Linked DNA regions of Homo sapiens: region 1 is linked to region 2. Evidence: fine-mapped expression QTL. Tissue or cell type: fibroblasts. Region 2 holds a variant in brackets; the other region holds the start of a gene. All regions are shown on one strand. Distances are between the middles of the regions.

Region 1 (11,927 bases), 54 kb before region 2:
CTGTCACCCAGGCTGGAATGCATTGGCATGATCTCAGCTCACTGCAGGCTCTGCCTCCCAGGTTCAAGTGATTCTCCTGCCTCAGCCTCCAGATTAGCTGGGATTACAGGTGTGCGCCCCCACGCCCAGCTAATTTTTGTATTTTTAGTAGAGATGGGGTTTTGCCGTGTTGGCCAGGCTGGTCTTGAACTCCTGACCTCAAGTGATCCACTCACTTTGGTCTCCCAAAGTGCTGGGATTACAGGTGTGAGCCACTGCGCCTGGCCACAAATCATATGTCTTATAAGGGACTTATATCCAGAATATTTAAAAAGCCCTACTCTCAATTAAAAAAAGACAACCCAATTAAAAAAATGGGTAAAACATTTGAATAGACATTTCTCCAGAGAAAATATACAAATGGCCAATAAGCACATGAAAAGATGTGCAACATCATTCATCATTAGAGAAATGCAAATCAAAACCACAATGTAAGTTACCACTTCATACCCAATAAAATGGCTTTAATAAAAAAGGCAACAGCAAGTGTTGACAAGAATGTGGAGAAATTCAAACGCTCATACTTTGCTAATAGGAACATAAAATGTTACAGCCAATTTGGAAAACAGTCTGAATAAGCTGGGTGTGGTGACGCATGCCTGTAATTCCAGTTACTCGAGAGGCTGAGGCATGAGAATCACTTGAACCTGGGAGGCAGAGGTTGCGTTGAGCCGAGATCGTGCCATTGCACTCCAGCCTGAGTTACCATTTGACTCAGTAATTTCACTCCTAGGTATATGTGCAAGAGAAAAGACAACATATGTTGACACAAAAACTTGTACATGAATGTTCATGGCAACATTATTCACCACAGCCAAAAAGTGGAAACAATTCAACTGTCCATCCACTGGTGAATGGATAAACAAAATGTCTTCTAACTATACAAGGAAATATTACTTCGCAATAAAAGAATAAAGTAATGATACATGTAACAACATGAGTGAACCTTAAACTCATTAGACTGCCTGAAGGAAATCAGACAAAAAGACCACACATTTTTTTGGTCCCACTTATGGGAAATGTCCAGAATCAGCACATCCATAGACAGTAGATTGGTGCTTGCCATGTGCCTGGGCATGGGGTGGGTAGGGGAATCAGTGAGTGCTAGCAGGTATGGAGTTTTCTTTTAGGGTGAGGAAAGGGTGATAGTGATGAATGTGCAGCCCACTGAATATACTAAACACTCCATTGTACACTTTAGAAGGTTGAACTTTAGGCTGGGTGAGGTGGCTCATGCCTGTAATCCCAGCACTTTGGGAGGCTCAGGCGAGTGGATCACCTGAGGTCAGGAGTTCGAGACCAGCTTGACCAACATGGTGAAACGCTGTCTCTACTGAAAGTACAAAAGTTAGCTGGGCGTAGTGGTGCGCGACTGTAATCCCAGCTACTCAAGAGGCTGAGGCAGGAGAATTGCTTGAACCCAGGAGGTGGAGGTTGCAGTGAGCCGAGATCATGCCATTGCACTCCAGCCTGGGTGACAAGGGTGAAACTCCATCTCAAAAAAAAAAAAAACCAAATAAATAAAATAAAAAGTAAAATTTGGACTTTATGGTGTATGAATGTCTCAATAAAGCTATTATATTAAAAATACATTTCCTTAGAGAGCTGAAGGATATTGATTTAGACCTCAATTAGTGATTTTTTCCCCCTATCATTCACAGTATTTTTACCTTAGTTCTGAATCCTTGAGTGATAACCATTCATAACCTTCAAACTTCGGAGAATTCCTAAACCAATATTTGTGGAGAGGGAGAATGGGGAGATTCAGATATGATTTGGTCTGTAGACTTTCCTTCCCATCTTTTTGCTACTTACAGCAAGTATCTTACAATTTGGACACATGACATACACATTTCACCTCCTGCATTGTGAGGACATACATAATGGAGTCTGAATTGTGACATCGATCTGCATCTCATAGTTGGAGCTATTGGCAGCATGGATTTTTAGTCATCCACAGTTAATGAGGAACAAATGAAAGGGACCTTATAATGGTTCATAGGCTTCAATTCCATGCATCCTATGTGTAGTACTGCTTGATGCCACATTTAACTGCAGTAGTATTTGTTTAATGAACATTTTCTTCATTCATTTGTTTAGAAAAATATTAGGCACCCCTCTGTGGGAGGTGCTGCTAGGCTGTGGGGATTCCACGGTGAGCATGCGGACAGGGTTCCCACCTTCAGGGAGCTTAGCTCTTTTGAAAGAATTCAGATAATAAACAAGTAAACTGATAAGATACTTGCATACAGTTATAGGTGAAAAAAGAAGATAATGGGATCACGAATGACTGGATTTGGAGTGGGGTCATACCCTAGGGACACAGTCTTTCTTTTCTTTGAGACAGAGTCCCAGTCCGTCACCCCGGCTGGAGTGCAGTGGCGCTATCTAGGCTCACTGCAACCTACGCCTCCCGGGTTCAAGCAATTCTCCTGGCTCAGCCTCCTAAGTAGCTGGGACTATAGGCGCCCGCCACCACACCCGGTTAATTTTTGTTTTTTGTATTTTAGTAGAGACGGGGTTTCACCATGTTGGCCAGGCTGGTCTTGAACTTCTGACTTTGTGACCCACCCGCCTCGGCCTCCCAAAGTGCTGGGATTATAGGCGTGAGCCACCGTGCCCTGCCGGGACAGTCTTTTGAGAGGAGGTGACAATGAAAGATGAGGCAAATAAAGAAATGGAGGAGGCTCTCTCAAGCAGAGGTGACAATACGAAGGACAGAGGCAAAAACAAGTTGGGGTATTCCAGAAAGGAAAGAAGGGGATAGCTAAAGCTGAGAGGGTTGAGAGGCCAGCAGAGGCCAGATCACCCAGGGCACCCTGATAGTTCAGCAGCATGTTCTGCTACTAGGGCATTGTGATGGTTCTGTAGTGTGACTTGTTCTCTCTCTTTTTTTTTTTTTGAGACACAGTCTTGCTGTGTCACCCAGGCTGGAGTGCAGTGGCGTGATCTTAGTTCACTTCAACCTCTGCCTCCTAGGTTCAAGCAATTCTCTTGCCTCAGCCTCCCGAGTAGCTGGGATTACAGGTGCCCGCCACCACGTCTGGCTAATTTTTGTATTTTTAGTAGAGACGAGGTTTCACCATGTTGGCCAGGCTGGTCTTGAACTCCTGACCTCAGGTGATCTACCTGCCTCAGCCTCCCAAAGTGCTGGGGTTACAGGTGTGAGCCACCGTGTCCTGCCTCTTGTAGTGTGACTTGTCCTAGGGGAAAGGGGAATCTAGTGGAGGGTTAAGAAAGAGATCTGACCTGAGAAGCTTTCAACTTTCAAAGATCATCTTGGCTGCAGTGTGGGGTGGGGTGGGATGGGGCTTGGACTGAGGTGGTAGCAATCAACAGTGTTCACTGTTGTGTGGTCGGTTTTAGATGGTTTTCTTTTCTCTTTCTTTCTTTTTTTTTTTTGAGATAGTTTTCTTTTGGAAATGAGCTGGACAGAGGGTGCAGAGGCCGATCCAAGGTTTGTGAGGCCTAAATCATACAGTTTGAGGGCCTTCCATAAGAAAAATAAAAACTAAACACAAAATGAGATAGAGGACCCTGCAATGGGGTAACACAAAATGAGATAGAGGGTCCTGAGCAAAGGAGAGTCCCTGACACTTAAGCTTCTGGAATTTCTTGATGAGTCCTCTCCCGATGGTGGGGGTGAGGTCGGGAGAGATCAAGAATGCCCAGGTTTTGTGACTGAGCAACTGATGATGCTATTAAGATGAGAAGGAGGTGTTTGGGGTAAGGTCTGGAGAGAAGAGCTGGGTTTCCTTCGTGGCACTTTTGTGGGACACAGGAAACAGCCACGTGGCTGAGGATAGAGGGACAATGGAGCCCAGGAAGAGGGCAGGGCTGGAAATGGCAAGCCATCACTTTCATGGCATTTAAAGTTGTGGAAGTGGATGACATCAGGTTGGGAAGAGAGAAGAGAGCCAAGCAATCAGCTGCAAGACAACTCCACCTGAGGCCAGGCCCTGGAGGTTTCTAGTTTATATATAGTCCAAATATAATAGTATATTTAACATTAGTCACTTTAAGTTGTAATTCTCTTTTTCTTTCTGATTGCAAGGGTTTCTTTCTTTACTTTTTTTTCTGAGACAGAGTCTCATTCTGTCTCACTCTGTCACCCAGGCTGGAGTGCAGTGGTGCGATCTCGGCTCACTGCAATCTCCACCTCATGGGTTCAAGCGATTCTGCTGTCTCGGCCTCTAGAGTAGCTGGGATTACAGAAGACAGGGTTTCTTTAACATTTAAGGAATCCACTGATCTACTTCTGAAATCTTCAGAGATAAAAAAGAGAAGGAATCCACTAATGCATGTAAGGATAGTGGGCTGAACAAGTAGGCCCTAATGATCAGAACAAGTCAATTAAAAAAATTATTTGATCAAAGAATTGTTTATTTTTATTGTTTTTATTTTTATTTTTTCTTATACTTCAGGAGTAGTAGGATTTACTTTGTGCCAAGGAAATAACTAGTTTTCTCTAAATTGTCTTCAAGCATTTAGGCCTCCTACCAACTAATATAATTCTCTACCTCTCACTTAGAAACATTGTTTAACAATATGGAATGATCATTTAAAGAACTTAGATCAGGCTGAGTGCGGTGGCTCATGCCTGTAATCCCAGGACTTTGGGAGGTAGGTGGATCACCTGAGGTCGGAGTTCGAGACCAGCCTGGCCAACATGGTGAAACCTTGTCTCTACAAAAAATACAAAAAAAAAATTAGCCAGGTATGGTGGCGCAGGCCTGTAGTCCCAGCTACTCAGGAGGCTGAGGTGGGAGAATCGCTTGAACCTGGGAGGTGGAGGCTGCAGTGAGCTGAGATCACGCCACTGCACTCCAGCCTGGGCAACAAAATGAGACTCAGTCTCAAAAAATAGAAAAAAAAAAAGATGTTAGATCAAACTAATATTAAGAGGTCAAAAGACCATCTTCCTCCCATCTTAATCTAAGGATTTTTCTAGTTTTGTTTATACACTTAAGTTTTCATTTGAGTATTCAGAGAGATAATAAACCCTACCCTTTTAAAGAATGTGGGAGGGAGTGGGAAAAGTAGGAATGCGTTTTAAGGTCTATCTGCCATGTAAAATCAGCGATATTGGACCCATGTGATAAGAATGCTTGTTTTACATGGCTTCAGCTATCCATAGACCAAGCATTTTCTCTTGAAACATAGCTACATTTAGAAAATCTTAATACAGCTTAAAATAGGAATTTTGGTATTTGGTCCCGGACACTACCACCAGAAAGGGATCCCATTATGTTATGATGCTATTATTCAAGCTGGTTGGACTCAGTTTGCAGAGACTCCTATTTTACAAATCACTTGGCTTGTGTGAATTGACTATTTAGTGGCTGTGAGATTGAGGATAAGGGCTAAATCTTTTCTAACAAGAGGACTATTTAAAAACCAGAAGAAAATCATAGTATTTTAGCTGTGAACTTTAGGAGAAGCTTTAGAGAAAAGATTTTATACATATCTTTAGTTTCATATGGTAATAGGTTATAAAGCATACGAAATCAAAGTAAAGAGCTAGAGGTGATGGGGTACTGTTAAAATAGGGTGCCCAGGGAAGACCTTCCTAAGGGTGAGATCCAACAATGTATTGCTTTATGAAAATTAATTTTCTGGCAGAGCAAAGGTATTTAAAAGATTAGTATTAAAAATGCTCAACCTACTTTCTTCTGACTTCTGTAAAAAAGCACTTTTTTATATATCAGATTTTTAAGTTATAATAATAACTGACAACATTTTGATTTCTTTCTGTGTTTGAGGGATAACCTTCTATGCTTTATCTTATTTAATTCTCAAATGTAACCAATGAGCCTTCAACCATTTTGTCAAGAAAATTCTTTAAACATGTATTAATTCCTTACTGGCCTTTTGAAACCTTTTGAAACACTGAATTATTATTATTTTTATTTTTTACTTTTTTTGTTCGTTTTTTTTTTTTTGACACGGAGTCTCGCACTGTCGCCCAGGCTGGAGTGCAGTGGCGCGATCTTGGCTCACTGCAAGCTCCACCTCCCGGGTTCACGCCATTGTCTCGCCTCAGCCTCCAGAGTAGCTGGGACCACAGGTGCCCGCCACCACGCCCGGCTAATTTTTTGTATTTTTAGTAGAGACGGGGTTTCACCGTGTTAAGCCAGGAAGGTCTTGGTCTCCTGACCTTGTGATCCGCCTGCCTTGGCCTCCCAAAGTGCTGGGATTACAGGCATGAGCCACTGCGCCTGGCCAAAATGCTGAATTATTTTTCACCTTTCCAGAGTGGGGCGTATAGGATAGAAGTTGGCCCTTGGGATGAGGGGATCCTGACTGTAGTTGCAGCTTCCCCCTTAACTAGCTGTGATCCTGAACTGGGCTGTCAATGCTTCCTGAGGCCTCCATTTCCTCATCTGTAAATTGGGGCGAGTTGGGCAGCACCCTAGGGGATCCTCCCAGCTCCGGCGTCTGAGGACCATCAAGTCGGTTATGTCACTGGGTTGTGGTAGAGTGGTGGATACACAGGCCACTTAGGCTTGCTTGCCCTGAGGTGAAATTGTTCTGGAACTCTGGGATTTCAACTCTTATATTTCTGCCTGTGTTTTGGAAGTGTTTTCCCCGCTCATTTTCTCCATCAGACAGTGTCATTTATTGTAGCTGCCAACATAAAATGACAACTGTCTCCACTTGTCAGCTGCTCTCATCATCTGGTTTGCTGTGTGCTTTGGAAGGCAGATGACCAAGCATGTATGAACTAGGCACAAGAGTATATGAACTCAGCACAGAGAAGACAGCTGAGGATATTTCCTGTAGAGTAGCATGCATGAACTTTATAAGGTATTTGGCCACTTAGGTATTTTTCTTTTTTTTTTTTCGTGATAGGGTCCCACTCTGTCACCCAGGCTGGAGTGCAGTGGCACAGTCATGGCTCACTGCAGTCTTGACCTCCCCAGCTCAAGGAATCCTCTCACCTCAGCCTCCTGAGTCCCTGGAATTACAGATGCATTCTGCCATAACTGGCTACTTTTTTCTATATTTTGTAGAGACAGGGTCTCACTATGTTGCCTAGGCTGACCTTAAACTCCTAGGCCCAAGTGATCCTCCCACCTCAGCCTCCCAAAGTGCTGGGATTATAGGTGTGAGCCACTGTGCCCGGCCGGTATTTTTCATTTGGAGGTTTATAATTGCATTCCAGAGTTTTAACTCTACTGGAAAGCTAACACAATGTTCCAACACAAATCTGTCTCGCATACTAGTTAGTGTCTTTGAGGTTCCATCACAGACAAATGACGGAAGAAAGCAAAACTGTTTAGGAAGGTCTAAATTAAACATTCTATAATAAAGGCATTAGCATTTGACAAGTCCCTGGTATCTAATACTTTATAAGATGACAATGAGCCTTTTTTACCCCTAGTTAGGGGATTAAGTTCTAGGAGAAGAAGTTAACCAGGTGGTTCCTTAAGTAAGTAATCTTTTGACTACTTAGGGATTGATTTTGTTTTCCCATAATGAAAATGAATTCTGTTTTCCTTCATTTACTTGACTTTAGTGATCTCTGAAAACTAAGATAAAATATACTCGGCCTCTGAGGGAATACAACCATAATGTACAGAAGACAAAATAGATACTCTAAAGATTTTAAATGGAACATCTTGGGATTTGAGAAATTAAAGGCAGTGAAAATCATACTGCTTCTAAGCACTTTTTATTCTCCCTATAGGAAAGCAGGGTAGATAATCCTGATGGGTTGGATTTCAATTAATTGGTGAATAGAAGGTAAAATGATCAAGAAACAGATATCATAATTATAGGAGAAAATAGCAGGAGCTTTTTGTTTTAAAGGAAATAAAGAATAGAATTCACAGTGAAGAGAGACAGAACAAAATCTGATAATTCTAGACTCACTTGAGTGCCGCAAGTATCCTGATCAGGGAAAACAGTTGTGCCTACACATGGGTCCTGGAAAGGCTTCTCCCCGGAACCACCTAAGTGAAATAAAAACTGATTTCTGACTGTTTCAGGATGGCAACACAGACCTTTAGGATAATAACCCACATTCTTTTGGGCAACTCTAATCAAGTGATGCCTCCTTAAGGATACAGAGTTAGTCCCCAGCTCACGTAAGGCACAATACCAAAGAACAATGAGCCATCATGAAATCGTCATTGTTTCATACTTGGTTTTTGTGTAGAATGTTCTCCAAATCATTGTCTCTGACGTTTCCTTCCTCTTGGGTATGACTGTGGTGACGTCAGGAGACGAGCTAAAGGGACCTCCTGGATCTCACAGGGAAACTCTTTCCCTCCAGTATCACGCTAAATTGTTCCTCAGTGCAGATGAAATTCTTAAATGGTTTCATCTGAATGTGAGGTTTTGGGATGACTTACTGTGGTCAGAGCTGTTCCCGGCTGCTCCAGTTGTGGGAGGTCATCAATCCCACAGTTCTGACCTCCTGGCTCAGAGACGTCACCGTGGAGACACCTGGCTGCTATTGTGACACGCAGGAGGTCAGCTGGCTCCTGCTAGTGGGCATTTACACTGCCCACCCTGCCAGCTTCACAGGCCCACACTGCACAGGCATTTAGACGTTACAGGGTAGCCCAAGCTCCCAAAGCTGTGGAAAGGAAAGGGAGCTATCTATTGGCCTTTGAGAACTCAAAACCCATGTTGCTGGGGGCCACTCAGATTGGGTACAAATGTGTCATCAAATTCAGTTTTGAAACTGTCTGAGTAGCTTCTTTACCCACAGATTTTGATTCTATTCACTACTCAATACTGAAAAGAGAAATTGATCTCTCAAATAGACAAAGATAAATTTGTATGGAAACAACAGGAAATTCCATATTACATACGTTTATGTCAACTGGGTTTGTGATTAAATTACTTTTTCTTTTATTTTAGTTGACATGTAATAATTATAAATATTGGCTGGGCGGGGTGGCTCATGCCTGTAATTCCAGCACTTTGGGAGGCCGAGGTGGGAGGATCATTTGAGCTCAGGAGTTCAAGACCAGTCTTGGCAACATGGCAAAACCCCATCTCTATGAAAAATGCAAATATTAGATGCGTGTGGCAGTGCACACCTGTAGTCCCAGCTGCTCAGGAAGCTGAAGTGGGAGGATCATCTGAGCCGGGGGAGGTTGAAGCTGCAGTGAGCTGTGATTGCACCACTGCACTCCAGCCTGGGCAACAGAGTGAGACCTTGTCTCAAAAAATAAACAATAAAAAATTGCAGATATTTATGGGATGTAATTAAATTTTTATATGACAGATTAACATCAATTTTGCCCTGTATTCTCATGGATCTCAATGCCCTAGCTTTGTACATTTAGCTTTTCTTTTTTTTTTGAGACAGATTCTCACTCTGTTGCCCAGGCTGGAGTGCAGTGGCGTGATCTCGGCTCACTGCAACCTCCACCTCCCGGGTTCAAGAAATTCTCCTGCCTCAGCCTCCCAAGTAGCTGGGATTACAGGTGCCCACCACCATGCCCGAATAATTTTTGTATTTTAGTACAGATGGGGTTTCACCACGTTGGCCAGGCTGGTCTTGAACTCCTGACCTCAAGTGATCCATCTGCCTCGGCCTCTCAAAGTGCTGGGATTACAGGCATGATCCCCTGCGCTGGCCTAGCATTTTGTTGTTTTTATTAATTCAGATCATTAATTAAAGCCAAACTCCATTTTTGTAATTATTTATTTCTTTTTTTTTTGATACAGAGTCTCTCTCTGTTGCCCAGGCTGGTGTGATCTCAGCTCACTGCAACCTCTGCCTCTCTGGTTCAAGCGATTCTTCTGCCTCAGCCTCCCAAGTAGCTGGGATTACAGGCACGCGCCACCATGCTCGGCTAATTTTTATATTTTTAGTAGAGACGGGGTTTCACCATGTTAGCCAGGATGGTCTCGATCTCCTGACTTCGTAATCTGCCCACCTTGGCCTCCCAAAGTGCTGGGATTACAGGCATGAGCCAACGCACCCGGCCTATTTTTGATTTTTAAATTGTTTCATAGGACATGGGCAGACTCCTTTGTATAGGTCACATTTTTTTCTTGGTAACGTGTGATGTCTAAGCACTTTCTAGTGTCACCCCGCATATCCTGAAAGTTCTTCAGCACTATTCCTTGCTTCTTCGTCCTCATCCTATGTCACTGGTTCTTTTTTTGTTTTTGAGACAGGGGTCTCATTATGTTACCCAGGCTGGTCTCGAACTATGGGCTCAAGAGATCCTCCTGCCTCAGCCTCCCAAGTGGTTGGGACTGCAGGAGCTCGCTACTGCACCTGACTTCTAACATTTTGGCTTGTGGGCAGGTGTCTTCATGGCATTTTGCTCAAGCATCTTACCAAGGGTCTGATACCAGAATTTACATAGATTCAGAATCAGCGATTGAATGGTTACAAGGTTACTGCAAAATGTATGAAGAACATTTTATTTAGTTACGTATTTGTTTATTTTTTAGTTCTTTTTTTAGAGACAGTCTTGCACTGTTACCCACCCTGGAGTCCAGTGATGCAATCATGGCTCACTGCATGCCCCACCATACTTGGTTAATGTTCTAAAAAAATGTTTGTAGACGTTGGGGGAGGGTCTCACTGTGTTGCCTAGGCTGATCTTGAACTCCTGGCCTCAAGTGAGCTGGGAGCACCTTGGCCTCCCAAAGTGCTGGGATTACAGGGGTGAGCCATTGTGCCCTTCCTGAAGAACATTTTAAAAGAACAAATCCGAGAAGTTTCTCCAGTGCCTATGACATTGACCAGTTGCTTGGTGTATTAGTCTGTTTTCATGCTGCTGATAAAGACCGTGGCTGGGCACAGTGGCTCATGCCTCTAATCCTAGCACTTTGGGAGGCTGAGGTCAGGAGTTCGAGACCACCCTGGCCAACATGGCAAAACCCTGTCTCTACTAAAAATAGAAAAATTAGCTGGGCATGGTCGTGGGTGCCTGTAGTCCCAGCTACTTGGGAGGCTGAGGCAGGAGAATCACTGAACCCAGGAGGTGGAGGTTGCAGTGAGCCGAGATTGTGCCACTGTACTCCAGCCTGGGTGACAGAGCAAGACTTGGTCTCAAAAAAAAAAAAGAAAAAAAAAAAGACATACCTGAGACTGGGTAATTTATAAAGAAAAAGAGGTTTAATGGACTCACAGTTCCATGTGGCTGGGGAGGCCTCATAGTCATGGTGGAAAGCAAAAGATACATCTTACATGGTGGCAGGCAAGAGAGAATGAGAACCAAGTGAAAGGAGAAACCTCTTATAAAATCGTCAGATCTCGTGAGGCTTATTCACTACCACAAGAACAGTATGAGGGAAACTGCCCCCATGGTTCAAATATCTCCTACCGGGTCCCTTTCACAACACACGGGAATTATGGGAGCTACAATTCAAGATGAAATTTGGGTGGGGACACAGGCAAACCATATCACTTGGTTTTTTGGAAGGTGCCAGCAGACCTGACTGCACTGGCTGATCCTTGGGCATTCCAAACCTACACCAAAGACAGGATTTAGGGGAATATACATTGATTTCTTCATCAGCAGGCACAACCAGTGGAATACTGAATAGGAATCACCATGGTGGATAAGGGTAGGCTAGAAAGTCACATATAGAGAGCACTATGGTGGATATTTTGCATTGTGGCTTTATTAGTCCGTTTTCACAGTGATGATAAAGACATACCCAAGACTGGGCAACTTACAAAAGGAAGAGGTTTGTTGGGCTTATGATTCCACATGGCTGGGGAGGCCTCACAAACATGGCGGAAGGTGAAAGGCACATCTCACATGGCGGCAGACAGGAGAAGAGAGCTTGTGCAGGGATACTTTTTTTTTTTTTTTTTCCTGAGACAAAGTCTTGCTCTGTCGCCCAGGCTGGAGTGCAGTGGTGTGATCTCAGCTAACTGCAACCTCCTCCTCCAGGGTTCAAGC
Region 2 (12,043 bases):
AGTTTCCCCATCCTTCTGCTTTAGTCTGTTCTCACAATGCTATAGAGAACTACCGGAGACTGGGGAATTTATGAAGAAAAGAGGTTTAATTAACTCACAGTTGGGCAGGCTTAACAGGAAGCATGACTGGGAGGCCTCCGGAAACTTACAATCATGGTAGAAGGCAAAGGGGAACCAAGCACATCAAACCATGGGAGCACAGGAGAGAGGGAAATGCCACACACTCTTCAACCATCAGATCTCGTGAGAACTCTCTCATTATCACAAGAACAGCAAGGGGGAAATCTGCCTCCATGATCCCATCACCTCCCACCAGGTCCCTCCCTCAACATTGGGAATTACAATTCAACATGAGATTTGGGTGGGGACAGAGAGCCAAATCATATCACCTTCACTAACCAAAACTTACTGAGATTTTGACTTATAGTTGGACTCTACATTGATATTCATGCTCAACATATTGGAATTCCTTCGGAACAGAGAACACATACCTATGAAACCTGTCATTAAACTGGGTAGTAACACCAATATAATTGTATACTTTATTAAGATACATTTAAATTTTGGTAAAATATACTTAATTTACCATTTTAACCATTTTTAGTGTACTAGCTCTATAGCATTACTTACATTCACATTGTCATGCAACCATCATCACCATCCATCTCCAGACCTTTTTCTTCATCTGAAACTGAAACTCTATACCCATCAAAAAATAATTTTAAACACCTATTTAGTAGCATGCAATTTAGAAAAATGAATAGACTTTGTTTTGAGACAGGGTCTTTCTCTGTTGTCCAGGCTGGAATGCAGTGGCATGATCACGGCTCACTGCAGCCTTGACCTCCTAGTCTCAAACGATTCTCCCATCTCAGTCCCCCAAGTCACTGGAACTACAGGTGTGTGCCACCACACCTGGCCTTTTGTATTTTTTGTGGAGACAGGGTTTTGCCATGTTGCCCAGGCTGTAGACTTTGTTTTTTAGAGTATGTTTAGATTTACAGAAAATTTAAGCCCACAGTACAGAGTTCCCATCTCCCCATTATTAACATCTTACATTTGTAGGGTACATTAGCTACAATTAATTAACCAATATTGATAAATTATTATTAACTGAAGCCCATACTTAATTCAGGTGCCTTTAGTCTTTATCTAATTATCTTTTTATCTTTCAGGAACACATCCAGGACACTACATTACATTTATTTGTCACGTTTCCTTGGGTGCTCTTCATTGTGACAGTTTTTCAGACTTTTTTTATGACCTTGACAGTTGTGAGAATTATTGGTCAGTTACTTTGTAGAACGTCCATCAGCTGGGATTTGTTTGATGTTTTCTTTTTTGTTATTTTATTTTTTAGTTTTTAAATATTTTATTTCATTTCCTGCCCACACATGGATGTCTGATATTTTCATGATTAGACTGAGGTAATGGGTTATTGGGAGGAAGGCCACAGATGCTAAGTACCATTGTCATCATATCACATCAAGGGTACATACTATCAACGTGATCTATCACTGTTGATTTTGAATTTGACCACCTGGCTGTAGTGCTGTTTGTGAGATTTCTCCACTATCAAGTTTCTCCCCTCCCTTCCACATTGTACTCTTTGAAAGGAGGTCACTGTGCAAAACTCACACTTAAGGAGGAGAGAGTTATGGAGTTAATTTTTAAATGATTGTGGGGACATTTTCTGAAGCATCTGCCCAGTTCACATGACCTCCCCCTCCCTAGTAACTGCTCACTCTCAAATCCATAAGGATACCCTGCCAATTCCTCTCTTAAGCAGCCAGAATTGTTCTGTGAAATCCTTTTCTCTTGGTCACAATGATTGGAGAACATAGGGTCGATAGGATTCTTTCCTCAGGTGCTGGAAATGTTAGGGTAAGTCAGGCTTTCTGTGTGCCCAAGTTCGATACAAAGCTACTAAATTAATGACTACTTAATAATATCCTTTGATTGACTAATAATTATACAAAAGCCTAGTTAAAATACTTCCAACATTGTTGATTGTCTCCCTATCATCCATTCCTCCTTCCCACGTTTACCACATAAACCCAATTTTATGTTTAATGCAACACACTCTCTACTCTCTATTATGCAACTCACATGCCCCAAGGATGGATTCCCACCCCTAGCTCCAGGAGGGGGCCCAATTGCTCCAAGAGTAATCCCCTTTTTCTTGCCTGTCATAAGTTCGGGAATAGACACGTGATCCAATTAAGGACAATGAGATGTGCAGAAAGTTTGCTAGAGCCTCCCAGGAGAGGTTTTCTTTGCTCTTTTGCTGTTGCTTTGAAGTGACCTATCTCTTCTGGATGTTGTCACATATTAAGACTGGGACCATTGCACACATCTTCCTTCCAGCCCGAGGAGGCAGCTGGCACACAAAGGAGGAAAACTTAAAAAATGCCAGGGAGATGGAACAAGAACCTTGTGAATGCCCAACCTATCTCTAGACCAGGGCCACTCAAAATGTAGGGTGTCTGGGAACTGTTTGTTACCATTCTATGATGACATAGACATAGAAATTGAGAGACATGCTTAGGAATTTTTGTAGGGATTTGATATTGCAATCGCCTCCAAGTGTGTGGTCAATGCACTTATCTAGCCAAATAGGCTCTAGACTAGTTGGGGTGTTGTCCAACAAATGGATGAGTTGTAAGTTGTGCAAACTGTGTACAAATCTTGTGCTTTATAACCATGTAGCAATCTGCACTGAATTGAAAAATTAAATCAATTCAAGAACAACTGTCCACAGATATTTTGAGAAACACTGCTACAGACTTCAATGATTATGTGAGTCAATTAATTTCCCCATCATTTAAGACAATAAGGATTTTCTTTTCTCCAATTCACAGCCCAAAGTATCTTATGTTATACTGTAGTGAATCTAGTAAAAAGACAAGAGACCACATAGATATTTGTGGTAGGGTATACATGTAATTAAATAAATGTCTATATATGTGTGTACGTGTTTTCACCTAACTCTGTACTGGGTAACCATTTCTCAATGTTAGTGATTGTAAAAATTTGAAAAAGAGAAGCTATTTTGGTATCTATTGCTAGCTGCTGGCACTTCCCAGTTCTAGTTCTTTGATTTGAATATGATGCCATGATGTAACACATGGGAGAGATACTAGAAGAACCAAAGTTCCATTTGTATCTCTAGGGAGAACTCATAAGAGTAAGGAGAGTTGACTATATGTCATCTTCCAATTATATTTTTAACTTCATACTTCAAAACTTTTCTAGTTTTGAGAGAAAGTCAATGCAATTTTTTTTTTGAGACAGAATTTTGCTCTTGTTGCCCAGGCTGGAGTTCAGTGGTGCGATCTCAACTCACTGCAACTTCTGCCTCCCAGGTTCAAGTGATTCTCCTGCCTCGGCCTCCCGAATAGTTGGGATTACAGGCGTCCACCACTATGCCCGGCTGATTTTTGTATTTTTAGTAGAGACGGGGTTTCACTGTGTTGGGCAGGCTGGTCTCAAACTCTTGACCTCAGGTGATCTGCCTGCCTCAGCCTCCCAAAGTGCTGGGATTGCAGGTGTGAGCCACCGTGCCCAGCCCAATGTAATTTTTATAAGTTTTGGGGGTCATAACCTTTAAGGGGTTATCAGAATTCTAATTTGTAAAAGCATTATTTATAAGTTACAAAAATTACACTTTGCAATTCTTATTATTTTCCTAGAGATACAAAGAAAGGGCTATAACGAAATTATGATTGTGTGCTAACAAATAGAATAGATGCCTTTGTTAATGGAGGTAAAACATTTTTGTGACCATTCTTTTTTGATATTATTTTGATCCCAATGGAATGTTTTTAGAGTCTCAGATTATTTTTCACGTGCGGAATGACTATTTCATTTACCATACCAAAGATAGTCTTTAAGCTAGTGATCTGGGAAAGATTGCTGTGTGAAATTAAAAACTTTATTCTTGCAACAATGATGAAATGGGCACATCTTTTTAGCCTTGATGGAATGAAGCCACATGACAATTAATTTATAGTATGCATTGCCTCAGCCATTAAGAGCTTTGGAAGGACTCCTGGTGTTGAAGGATGAGGCAGATGGGGTGTTCTAGAGAACTAGAGAGTTTATTTTGGCTTCAAAGCTGGTTACTATTATAAGAGATAGAAAACTGGGCAATAGCAAGCTGCAGCAGAAGGGACGGCCTCAACAGATGAGCCTGATGTATTATTTTAAGAACTTTCTTCCAAAGCCAAGTCATAACACCTCATTGCTTTGTACGAAATAAAAACACACTTTCTTTACAGGACTTGCTTTCCTTGAAAATGATAAAGATCAATTGCATGAATAGGGATTTTATTTTAATATAAATATGTGGAGCTCTTAATTAATTTACACAATAAAATATATTGTTATGTGCCTTGTTGGTATAGCTGTATCACTATACAAGTGGCATTCTGTAACTGGTCCTCTGGTTCCATTAAAAAAATTTGGTTGTGGCCAGGCATGGTGGCTCACGCCTATAATCCCAGCATTTTGAGAGGCCAAGGTAGGCAGATTACTTGAGGTCAGGAGTTCGAGACCAGCCTGGCCAGCATGGTGAAACCCTGTCTCTACTAAAAATACAAAACTTAGCCAGATATGGTGGCATGCACCTGTAATCCCAGCTACTTGGGAGACTGAGGAAGGAGAATTACTTGAACCTAGGAGGCGGAGGTTGTAGTGAGCTGAGATCAAGCCACTGCACTCCAGCCTAGGTGACAGAGTGAGATTCTGTCTCAAAAAAAAAAAATTGGTTGTATGCTTGAGACAGTAATGTTCACTAAATATTCCATGGGCTCCCCTAGTTCTTCATCTCACTCATAGTTGAACTGGGGCCATGTATCTAGATCAGGCTGATGGGCCATGAGAAAAATGAATTTTTGTCACTTTTGGACTGAGACAGTTAAAAACAGGCATAGGCTTTTCATCATCTTCTTCTTTTGTGTGACCATTTTGACATGGAGGAGCCACACAACGGAAGCAGCCTCTATCTTTAGTCATTACATCAAAAAAACATCCCTGGAGAGCTCTTTACCTGCACTAGACATTTTGTGAATAGTGGAAGTTGACTTGTGCTGTGACACCCCAGTGAGATTTGGGTGTCTATTTGTTACCACAGCATGGGCTAGTGTTATACTGACTTTTATCCATAGTTATAAATTTCTGTTCTTTATAAATTACCCAGGCTCTGGTATTTTGTATGTGTTTGTCCATTTGCACTGCTATAACAAAATACCAGAGGCTGGG[T/C]CATTCATAAAGAATAGAAATTTATTTCTTACAGTTCTGGAGGCTGGGAAGTCCAAGATCAAGGTGCCAGCAGACTTGGTGTCTAGTAGGGGCTGTGCTGTCTGCTTGCATGATGGCACCTTGTGACTGTGTCCTCATATGGCAGAAGGTGCAGGGGCAAAAAGGGCAGAATCCTGGTGAAGCTTCTTTGATAAATGCCTTAATCCCATTCAAGAGGGAGATGCCCTTATGAGCAAATCACCTCCTTAAGGCCCTACATCTTAATATTATTACATTGGAAACTAAGTTTCAACATGAATTTTAGAGGAGCACAAACATTCGATTGTGACAGAATTGGTAACTACTAACCAATTTACCACTTGCAGTGTGTAGATAATCCCCAGAAGCAGAGAGACTGATATGTGCTGTAGATGTGGGTGCACGGTTGAGTTCCCAGGGGCCCTATTGTGCATCGCTCATTGGCCTCTGTACTGTTTCCATGTGTGCAGAACTGTGCTGGGAGCTGTAAGAATGTAAGCAACAACAATAAAGCGATCTTAGACCTAAATCAAGTCAGTCCAAGGAGAAGAAACATACACTTCTTTTCTTCTATAAGCTTGCAGTCTATCTATTAGGAGAGCAAGGACAGGCACCCAAGAAATTAAAATATAAGGTAGAGGGACAAAGAATATTTCATTGGCTTGGGGAGATCACGAGCTGTAAATAGTAAATGAGTCTGTGCGTTCTAGGCTATAGTACAATGCAAATTTGGAGAATAAAGGTATTTTAATGAGATTAATATGTTTGAAGGTTAATTTTTATTTTTATGTACAGTAAAGGTAACATTAAACCTTTATCCCAGTTTGGCGACAAGTTCTTTAGCCTTGCTTTTTGAGCTTAGCAATGAGAGCCATAAATTTGATAGAATGTTATCCCCAATGATAGCAGATCTTGTCATGTCTGTCATTGTAATTGGTCCTGGTAGTTTCCACCAGCTTAGCTAGGACTCCTTTGTCTTCTGAGTTAACCTGTGTAAAGGCAATGGTGGTGCAGGTCTTTCTGTGGAGGAAACATCCCACCAGTCTGGCTTTTCTCTTGATAATGAACTAGGAGACTCCCATTTTAGAGCCCAAGGCAGCAGGAAGAACAACCAGCTCAGTGGAATCCACACATGTGCAGTCATCCCCAGGTGAGCCTTGTTGTTCTCCACCAAGGTGGTGACTTTATAAACACCTGCTTAAAGGACCGGCAGTCTCAGTGGGGATACCCCTTTTCTGGCAGCTCTCTGCTTTTCTTGCTCTGTGCCTGAATGTAGTTGGCCACTTTAAGCAATTCAGTAGCTGTTTGACTGGCCAATGTCTGAGTGAGCTGGTTCATCTCAGGGGATGCTTTCAAACACTTATAAAGGAAGACTCTTTGCCACCACAGCTGGATGTAACAGCTGCATTTGACAAGCAGACAGGGGTGATTATTGCATCCCATTTTGTAGGCCTAACCGGGAATGATAATAATTTCTTTTCTTTTTTCTTTTCTTTTTTTTTTAAGACAGAGTCTCACTCTGTTGCCTGGGCTGGAGTGCAGTGGTGCGATCTTTGTTTACTGAAATCTCTGCCTCCTGAGTTCAAACAGTTCTCCGCCTCAGCCTCCTGAGTAGCCGAGATTACAGACATGCACCTGGCTAATTTTTGTATTTTTAGTAGGGACGAGGTTTCACCATGTTGGCCAGGCTGATCTCAAACTACTGACCTCAGGTGATTTGTCTGCCTCAGCTTCCCAAAGTGCTGGGATTACAGGCATGAGCCACTGTGCTCAGCCTGGAAATAATAATTCAGCTTTGATTTGAACATTTTAAAACATTTTGATAGCATTTTAAATTTTGGTTAAAATAACACATGTGCCATATTTAAAATCAACAAGCCCCTGTCAGGCCTGATGCCACCCGTTTCCCTGATGGTTTACATTTGTAGAGAAGTTTTCCAGATTCGCCTTACAGAAATAAATCTGGCCATTCAAGGTCAGTCTAAATCTGTACTTCTAGAAGTCAACATATGTAAATATGACCAAACATTGAGGTTTTATTTTCCTCCATAGTAAAGACTTATCTTTTTTTTTAAAAATGGACTGTATCAAATCAATTTTTATACTTCTTTCCTCAGTAAGCAAAAATAAATTTTTCATGTGCTATAAAGACAGCATTAAATCTTTATGTCCTCTGTTGATTAGAAAGTATGATATTAGCAACACTAGGATATTTATACTCGGAACTCTGTAATTATTCTAAAATACATGCTGTCTTTTGTTTGTCTATTTTATGTGGGTTGCTCTCTCTTACCTGGTATTTGAGAAATCTACTAATGAGATCAAAGAGAATAAAAATTGGGATACTAGATTATTATTATTTATATATACATATTCCTAGAAGAATCTAGGCCTGATATAACTTTTTTAAGGGACTACTGTTCTAGGATCATTTTATCTGTTCATTATATACCCTCCAAACCAAATTCTGTAGGTGGTTTTTTTTTTTTACATTTTCTCCTGGGAAAGATAAACGAGGCACTCCATGGTAGAATAAAAAAACAGATTTGGCTTTGGGGAGTTGGGAAAGTTCTGGTGAAATGCCAAGTGCTGAGCTGCAGGTTTTCAAAATTGTTTATTTTGAAGCTTAGAATTGTTGGAAAAGTATCACATATGAGACTCATGTCATTGCTTCTGACAGTGAAATAGGTCAGCTGCCCAGGTGGTGTCTGAGAAACCTACAGAAAAAAGATAATGTATACATCTCTTCTTCAGCCCAGACTCTGTTAGCCATCCGTATAACAGGCTCAGTGGGGTTGAAAATCTTCAGTACCATTCCTTGGATACAGATCATAGTCTGGTGGTCTGACTTTTATAATCATGGTCATAGTTCTTGAGAGGTTTCTTTTTAAACTTTGCAAATTCCAAATTAATCCAGTATGGATGTGTTCACGGTGCTGTGTAACAGCAATGCCTGTTCTCAAGAGGCATATGCTTAGATCTCTTTGTACAGCAAATCAGCCTGAAATTCCATATGTCATTATTCTGACTTTAGGTCATATGGTGAATTAACTGCAAGCTTATAATGCTCACAGAAACAGCAGTGACGCAGAAGAAGGGGCGGGAGGTTCCAAGAATGACGAATGCCAGGTAGGAAAGTGGAGAAAGGCCAGAACATGAGCGTCCTCCCCACCAATTGTGGAGGGAAAGCTTTCTTGGTTTTCTTTTTCCCAGTAGGAAAAATACTTCATTAAGAAAACTGGTCACTGTAATCCCAGCTACTAGGGAGGATAAGGCATGAGAATCGCTTGAACCCAGGAGGCAGAGGTTGTAGTGAGCTGATACTACGCATAAAGTATTCTTTATCTTGTAGGCAGATGATGATGTAAACTGAATTTACTAAAGAAATGGTGAATGACATATTCATGGAACCATTCTAGTTTCTAATAAACAGTTATAGCTTGGTTAGCCCATCTGTGGGTGAGGTCACTGCAGTCAGTATGCACATACCCACCCCCAAATCGGCAGAGAACATCTGCAGAAGTGAGGCTTCCTCACTCTTCCCCCTTCCTGGAATGGTGGAGCTGGATTCTGAAAGGGATTCCTGGGCTTGAGAACGTTCTGGGCAGACCCTGAAGGGGCAAGTCCATAGTACACAATGACGTGGTAACAAGACAAACTTCTTATCAAATCCATAAAGCTATCTAAACTGCACAATATCTAGCAATGAAATTAACCAAAGAAATGAAAAATCTATACAAGGAAAATGATCAAATATTGATGAAAGAAATTGAAGAGGACACATGAAAACTGGGAATATATTCCATGCTCATGGATTGGAAGACTTAATATTATTAAAATGACAATTCTACCCAATAAAATTTACAGATTCAATGCAATCCCTATCAAAATACCACTGATCTTCTTCACAGAAATAGAAAAAAGAGTCCTAAAATTTATATGGAACCACAAAAGACCTTGAATAGCCAAAACAACCCTGAGCAAAAAGAATAAAGCTAGAGACATCATACTACCTGACTTCAAAATATACTACCAAGTTATAGTAACCAAATCAGCATAGTACTGGCATAAAATCTGACACATAGACAAATGTAACAGAATAGAGAACCCAGATATAAATCCACACACTTATAGCCAACTCATTTTTCACAGAGGTACCCAGAATATACAATGGGGGAAAGGACAGTCTCTTTAATAAGTGGGGCTGGGAAAACTGGATTTCCATATGCAGAATAATGAAACTAGACCTCATCTCACTGTATAAAAAAATCAATTGAAAAGGAGTTAAATATTTTTTATTATTATTATTATTATTATTTTTTGGAGACAGAGTCTCGCTCTGTTGCTCAGGCTGGAGTGCAGTGGTGTGATCTTGGCTCACTGCAACGTCTGCCTCCAGGGTTCAAGTGATTCTCCTGCCTCAACCTCCCGAGTAGCTGGGACTACAGGCACCCGCTGCCACGCCTGGCTAATTTTTTTTTGTATTTTAGTAGAGATGGAGTTTCACTGTGTTGTCCAGGCTGGTCTTGAGCTCCTGGGCTCAAGTGATCCTACCACCTTGGCCTCCCAAAGTGCTAGGATTACAGGTGTGAACCACTGCATCCAGCCCAAAAATGAGTTAAATATTTAAATCTAAGACAGGAATCTGTGAAACTACTAGAAGAAAACATTGAGGAAATGGTCTCAGACATTAGTCTGGGAAAATATTCTTTGTGCAAGACCTCAACAGCAGAGACAACCAAACAAAAATAGACAAATGGGATTACATCAAGCTAAAAAACTTCTGTATGGCAAAGGAAACAATAAAGTAAAAAGACAACCCACGTGATATGGTTTGGCTTTGTGTCCCTGCCCAAATCTGATCTTGAATTGTAATCCCCAGGTGTTGAGGGAGGAACCTGGTGGGAGGCGATTGGATCATGGGGGCTATTTCCCCCATGCTGTTTAGTGAGTGAGTTCTCATGAGGTCTGATGGTTTTATAAGTGTTTGACAGTTCTCATTAGATCTGATGATTTTATACGTGTTTGACGGTTCTCACGTGATCTGATGGTTTTGTGTTTGAGAGTTCCTCTCTCACACTGTCTCTGTTGCCTGCTGCCACGTAAGATGTGCCAGCTTCTCCTTCCTCCATAATTGTAAGTTTCTTGAGACCTCTCCAACGATGTGGAACTGTGAGTCAATTAAACCTCTTTTGTTTATAAATTACCCAGACTTGGATAGTATCTTTATAGTGGTGTGAAAACAGACTAATACACCACAGAATAGGAGAAAATATTTGGAAACTACTCATCTGTCTAGGGATTAATAACCAGAATATAGAAGGAACTCAAACAACTCAATAGCAAAAATGCCAAATAATCTAAAGTAAAAATGGGCAAAAGATCCAAACAGACATTTTTCAAAAGAAGACATACAAATGGCCAAAAGGTATATGAAGAAATGTTCAATATCACTAATCATCAGGGAAATGCAGATCAAAGCTACAATGAGATACCATCTCACCCCAGTTAAATGGCTTTTATTAAAAAGGTAGAAAATACAATACAATAAAAAATAAACTGCACAGATAATAATGATCTACAATTTGAAATTTGAGGTATCTCTTTGGAACTCCATTTGCTATAGTCTGAATGTTTGAGACCCCTGAGAATTCATATGTTGAAGTTCTAACACCCAAGATGATGGTATTAGAAGGTGGGACTTTTGGGAGGTGATTAGGTCACGAGGGTAGAGCCTTTATAATGAGATTATTGCCTTTATAAAAGAGGCCCCAGAGAGCTGGGCCCCCTCCACCAAGAGAAGATGCAGACAGGAGACACCATCTATGAACCAGGAAACAGACCTTCACCAAGCTTAAAATCTACTGGTTCCTCGACTTTGGACTTCACAACCTCCATATGTGAGAAATAAATTTTTGTTGTTTATAAGCCATTCAGTTTATGGCACTTTGTTATAGCATTCCAAACAGATGAAAACAGCATTCAACATAAATTTCATTCCAGGAGTGAAGCTCAAGCTCAAGAAACCACTAAAGGTGTATCAGTGACTTGAATAAATTGTTAGAAACTTCATTTTAAGCATTTATGTTTCAGAATACAGTATACATTCAAAAGACAGAAGTTAAATAAGGAGAAATGTTTGCAAGAAAAGGGATATGGTTAAATATAAAGGGTCCCACAGATACATCTAGTGCATGGGCTCATCTCGTGTGGAATACCATATGAAGCATTTAAAATATTTAAGAGTGTTCAATATTTTTAAGTGCCGGCAGGGTTTCGTTCATAAATTCTTATGGCCCAAATGAGGCAGGGAAAATTCTCAACCTTTTTGGTTTTGTTCATATATTCTTATGGCTCAAATGAGGCAGGGAAAATTCTCAACCTTTTTATAAGTGGCCAAACTATAGCTCAGAGGGATCTGGAAAGGAAAAGACTGTTCAATGTTACACAACAAAAATGAAAAACAGACACCAAAAATAGATTTAACTGCATTATGCTTTGCATCATATTTTTAAAATATCTAACTGTTTTTGTCTTAGAAATGTATTCTCACTGAGTACATCAGGTAATTCTCCAAACTAAAAACTTCAAGGGAATAGAGAGAGGAAAGAAAGTCAATCAGATTTTATCTTAAATTTTTGCCTGATTTGAATTTTTAAAAATCTTAATACTAATATTAAAAATTTTCTGCTTTTTGAGTTGAAGTATGACTCATGTACAGCAAAGTACATAAATCTTACTTAAGGCATTAGCTCAATGAATT

Alleles and levels. Positions count from the first base shown, and alleles are read on the strand shown. Sizes are in standard deviations (SD) of each study's normalised expression.
With allele T in place of C in region 2, the expression in fibroblasts of the gene that starts at base 8,438 in region 1 is higher (small effect, 0.35 SD a copy in GTEx).

Evidence for each region.
Region 1: IPO5 starts here. The variant in region 2 is fine-mapped to the expression of IPO5 in fibroblasts (GTEx, PIP above 0.99). The same link has a PIP of 0.9 or more in nasal epithelium.

What each region holds. Positions count from the first base shown.
Region 1 is chr13:97,950,186-97,962,112 of GRCh38, reverse strand. IPO5 (importin 5) reads right to left here and starts at 8,438. Exons shown (of 29, transcript NM_002271.6): 1 at 8,397-8,438; 2 at 7,915-7,994.
Region 2 is chr13:97,896,305-97,908,347 of GRCh38, reverse strand. It overlaps the pseudogene RPL7AP61. Among named protein-coding and RNA genes, the nearest start is that of IPO5, 51 kb to the left of the region's middle. The variant T/C (reference allele first, on the strand shown) is at 5,263.